Linked DNA regions of Homo sapiens: region 2 is linked to region 1. Evidence: fine-mapped expression QTL. Tissue or cell type: sun-exposed skin. Region 1 holds a variant in brackets; the other region holds the start of a gene. All regions are shown on one strand. Distances are from middle to middle.

Evidence for each region. PIP is the estimated chance that this variant, and not a neighbour inherited with it, causes the effect.
Region 2: SH3KBP1 starts here. The variant in region 1 is fine-mapped to the expression of SH3KBP1 in sun-exposed skin (GTEx, PIP above 0.99).

What each region holds. Positions count from the first base shown.
Region 1 is chrX:20,190,624-20,193,338 of GRCh38, forward strand. The region is part of intron 7 of RPS6KA3 (ribosomal protein S6 kinase A3); the gene reads right to left. Among named protein-coding and RNA genes, the nearest start is that of EIF1AX, 50 kb to the left of the region's middle. The variant T/C (reference allele first, on the strand shown) is at 1,240.
Region 2 is chrX:19,886,123-19,888,622 of GRCh38, forward strand. It overlaps SH3KBP1 (SH3 domain containing kinase binding protein 1), which reads right to left and starts at 1,478. Exons shown (of 18, transcript NM_031892.3): 1 at 1,185-1,478. The coding sequence starts at 1,188. RefSeq lists silencers at 880-1,019, 1,500-1,569, 1,630-1,929.

The DNA.
Region 1 (2,715 bases):
GCTTGAATATTCATTCTCACCAATAATTATATTTTGTGTCACAATAGTTATAAGTTGGGAAAATAATCAGGAAAACTCAGCAGTTATTTGGGGAATAAAAACAAAACCATATGAAACTTATCCAAAAACAATAAAAAAAACATAAAATATAAAAGCATAACAATTTCTAAATGATCACTTAGAAGAGTTCCAGATGAGCATTTCCTCTCTTCCTGTGTTAATACAGAATTTAAATTTTGTACTAACTTTTTTTTTTTTTTATTATGCTTTAGGTTCTAGGATACATGTGCAGAACGTGCAGGTTTGTTACATAGGTATACACATGCCATGGTGGTTTGCTGCGCCCATTAACCCGTCATTTACATTAGGCATTTCTCCTAATGCTATCCCTCCCCTAGCCCCCTAACTCCTGACAGGCCCCGGTGTGTGGTGTTCCCCTCCCTGTGTCCATGTGTTCTCATTGTTCAACTCCCACTTATGAGTGAGAACATGCAGTGTTTGATTTTCTGTTCCTGTGTTAGTTCGCTGAGAATGATGGTTTCCAGCTTCATCCATGTCCCTGCAAAGGACATGAACTCAGCATTTTTTATAGCTGCACAGTATTCCATGGTGTATATGTGCCACATTTTCTTTATCCAGTCTATCATTGATGGGCATTTGGGTTGGTTCCAAGTCTTTGCTATTGTGAATAGTGCTGCAATAAACATACGTGTGCATGTGTCTTTATAGTAGAATGATTTATAATCGTTTGGGTATATACATGGTAATGGGATTGCTGGGTCAAACGGTATTTCTGGTTCTAGATCCTTGAGGAATCGCCACACTGTCTTCCACAATGGTTGAACTAATTAACACTCCCACCAACAGTGTAAAAGCGGTACTATTTCTCCACATCCTCTCCAGCATCTGTTGTTTCCTGACTTTTTAATGATCGCCATTCTAACTGGCGTGAGATGGTATCTCATTGTGGTTTTGATTTGCATTTCTCTAATGACCAGGGATGATGAGCTTTTCTTTCATATGTTTGTTTGCCACATAAATGTCTTCTTTTGAGAAGTGTCTGTTCATATCCGAGAGAAATATTCAAAATTCTTAATATGATGGTTGTACAACTCTGTGAATATACTAAAAATCAATGAATTATACACTTCTTTTTTTTTGAGACTGAGTTTCGCTCTTGTCACCCAGGCTGGAGTGCAATGGCGCGATCTCAGCTCACTGCAACCTCCACCTCCCGGA[T/C]TCAAGCGATTCTCCTGCCTCAGTCTCCCAGTAGCTGGGATTACAGGTGTGCCCCTCCACACCTGGCCAAGTTTTGTATTTTTAATAGAGACGGGGTTTCACCATGTTGGCCGGGCTGGTCTCAAACTCCTGACCTCAAGTGATCTGCCTGCCTTGGTCTCCCGAAGTGCTGGGATTACAGGTGTGATCCACTGCACCCAGGCAATGACTTGTATAATATATGAATTACAACTCAATAAAGCTGTTTAAAAATATTCCTGGTAGAGCAAGGCTCGTGCTTATATGCTTATAAAAGGAAAAAAAAAACTTTCTTACTCAGTGGTAGATAAACATCAACAAATTAAAACGGAAGTGTGTACAATTTAAATAATATCCGATTCTTGATGACTGTTACTATCAAACCTGTGGGAAATTTGCTCAGTTCACACTTAAAATTTGAAATTACATGGAGAAGAAAATTTTCAATAAATGGTATTTGGGGGAAAGAAAGGATTAGCTTTATACCATCCCTCCTGCCAAAAAATTTCTAAACAATGGAGCTAAAAGAAAAAAAAAAAGAAACTATAAAATTAGAAGGAAAATATCTGATCATAGAACTGGGGAAAGCCTAAGAATGAGAGTCAGAATAAATCACAAAAGAAGATTGGTAGATCTGCCTGAAGAAAAAAACGTGCATAAATTAAACAACATAAAGTTAAAATTGAAAGACTGGAAAAAAATGTAAATTTTCTTTTTTTTTTTTTTTTTTTTTTTTTGAGACAGGGTCTCACTCTGTTGCCCAGGCTGGAGATGCAACAGAGCGATCTTGGCTCACTGCAGCCTCGATGCCCCAAGCTCAAGCAATCCTCCTGCCTCAGCCTCCTGAGTAGTCGGGACTACAGGCATGTGCCACCATGCCCAGCTAATTTTTTGTAGAGATGGGGTTTTGCCATGTTGCCCACACTGGTCTACAACTCCTGGGCTCATGCAATTCAGCCTCCCAAAGTGCTCGGGTTACATGTGTGAGCCACCATGCCAGACCAAAAATAACATTCTGAAAGAAAAATGAACAAAGGCCATGAGCAGAAAATTCACACAAAAATACAAATTGCCAATGAATGCAGATTTCAACCTCATTAAAAAATCAAAGAATGGGATGGCTGTGGTGGCTCACGCCTGTAATCCCAATACTTTGGGAGGCTGAGGCAGGTGGATCACCTGAGGTCAGGAGTTCGAGACCAGCCTGGCCAACATGGTGAAACCCTGTTTCTACTAAAAATACAAAAATTAGCTGGGTGTGTTGGCAGGCGCCCGTAATCCCAGCTACTCGGGAGGCTAAGGCAGGAGAATTGCTTGAATCTGGGAGGTGGAGATTGCAGTGAGCTGAGATTGCGCCACTGCACTCCAGCCTGGGCAACAAGAGCAAAACTCCATCTTTAAAAAAAAAAAATCAAAGAATGCACACAAAAACAGTATTTTTTGATTAACTGAGATTTT
Region 2 (2,500 bases), 300 kb before region 1:
AACAGATCACCACTACTTAGAAAAGGAAAACCTTTTTTGGCAAATGACCACAAATGGGATTTTAACTTTGCCTGTCAACAACGGACTGGGTTAAACCTCCTCTTTTCCAATCCTTCAGGCTTTCTGAACATCCTGACTAGTGTACTGGAATCCTATTACCTGAACACAGAAAGGTCTCACTTTATTATGATTTATTATTATCTGCAGCCTTCCTATGCCTGGCCTAGGAACATCCAAAAATAATCTGCCAGAGGCTGAAAAACAGAAGCTGGCTGTCAGCAAGAACATTACCTGGGTAGACCAAACATTTAATAGCCCAAGTAATCATAAGTGCCTTGCCAATAAAGTGGCAGCTTCTCTGGGCAGCAAGGTGGTTCCAATGCTCCGGGGTCTAAATCAAATGGGACCCAGGGGGTTCAAAGGTTAGTTGGCTACTTCGAACTGATGTTTACTCAGTAAATCAAAGACCGGATCACCATTTCCAGGTCCCAGACCCTGAAGACTTAAAGGACAGTATGGGAAGTGGCCTTTTAGCATCACGGAGCAGAGAGCTCGCCAGGCTGGAGGAAGGCAGCAGCGAAAGGGTCGGGGCCGGGAGGAAGGGGGGCGCAAGGAGAGGAGCGTCAGGTGCTCTGGACCCCGGGACTGCGAGCCAGACCAGGAACTGGGGCGTTTCCCGCCCCACCCCCCAACCCCTGTCAACCCCCAGCAAAGGCAACCCAGCCCCCTCCAAGACCCCGAGGTTCCAGCTTCCCCCGAGACAGGACCAGGAAGACACCAGCAGCCCCGCGCAGGGCCGGAGCCCACCAGGTCCGGGTGCCCGTGTCCGCAGCGCAGAGGAGGGCGCGCTCGGGTGCAAAAATGGCCAAGACAAAACTCTCCCCGCCCACCCGAAAAACCAACCACACCCCCTGCATCCCTCAGCCCGAGCCGCCCGGGGCCAGCCCCCGTGATCGTCTGCTCAGGCCCCCGCGGGTTCCCGTCGGCGCCGCGCGCGGGCTCGGCGGGCACACGGGCGCAAGTGGGAGTGAATGGGGGTGCGCGAGGCAGGCGAGGGCGCCCACCGCGGTGTCCCCCGTCCGGACCCTGCCCCCGGGGCGCCCTCCCGGGCTCCGCGGTTCTGGGACTGGCGCGCCGCCCTCAAGGCTGAAGTGGACGCCCGGACGCGGGCGGCCCCCACTCACCCATTGGCGTCGAGCCGGGCCGGGCCGCCGAGGCAGCGTGAAAGTTGGCGGAGGCGGGCGTGGGGGTTGGGGCGCCGGGATCGGGGCGCTGGGATCCAGGCGCGAGGGTCCGGACGCGGCGGCGGCTGGGCCGGCTTCTTCCTCAGTGGCGGCGGCGGCGGCTCAGCGCCGCCCGCTGCTGCCTCTGCTGCTGCTGCCGCTGCTGCCCCGGGGCGACTCCTGCTGCTGCTGTTGCATCGCGGCCCAATGCGCCCGGCTGCGCCGGGTTTCCTGCTCCCCGCGAGTGGAAATTGCGAAAAAAAAAAAAAAAAAAAAAAAAAAAAAAAAAAAAAAAAAAAAAAAAACAGCGCCGCCCAGCCCAGCGCCCGGCAGCCGCGGCCGCGCCGCCCGCTCTCCCCTCCTCCTCAGCGCTGCCGCGAGGCTCCTGCAGCTCCGCCTGCCGGGGACGCGCGGCCGCCGGGCGGGGGCGGGGCCGGAGAGGGGCGGGGCCGGGGCCGGGGCCGCGTCGGGGCAGGCGCCGGGGGCGTCCCTGCGGCTGAGGGGCTTGGGCGCCCTCCTCACCGCCCGCGCCAGAGGCACCCCTCTCCGCGCGGCTGCCACCCACCCGCAGCGGCTGGGCTGACGCCCCGGGAAGTGCCGCGAGACTCCTCGAGACCGGAGGAGAGGGGCTTCTTGGGGGAGGGGCGTGGGAGTGCAGGGGCACGTGGAGAAGGAGGAGAAGGGGGCTGAGCGGGAGGGGGCGACAAGAGGTGGAGGACGGGCTGGGGATGGAGACCAGGGCAGGCCCGGGGCCAAACGCCTGACCAGGGTGATGGCAGGTGGCCCTGGGGCATCGAGGCAATCTGGAATGAGTTTTCCCGGGGGGCTGTTGGAGGGGAAGGAAAAGGGTCCCTTGGAAGGGAGAGAAACGCGGCGTCCCTTCGGTGGGGCGTGGGAACGCAGGCAGGCCAGGTGCGAGTTCCGCACAGAGGAGGCGGTGGCACTGACGTGGGGAAAAACGGGCGAAGGACGCAGCGGGGCCGAGGGGACGCATCGCCTCGCTGGGACCCGCCTAAGCCCCGCCCCAGTGCCTGGGCCAGGTGCGGTTCGGGTGTTCAGGAATGTTCCCGAGCTCTGACGTTCCCAGGAATCCGCTGAGATGAGGGCTGGCTCCCTCCCTAGCAGGCATTATTGTGCCTTACTGACTCCCAGACCTGGACGGCCGACCCTTGAGTGGGCGCTAAAATGTTAACAGGGAATCCGTGGGCATTCGTGGGCAATTCAGAAGCTCCGTTTTGGGTCCATTCACCACCACACCTTTCGCCATAGATACTCTG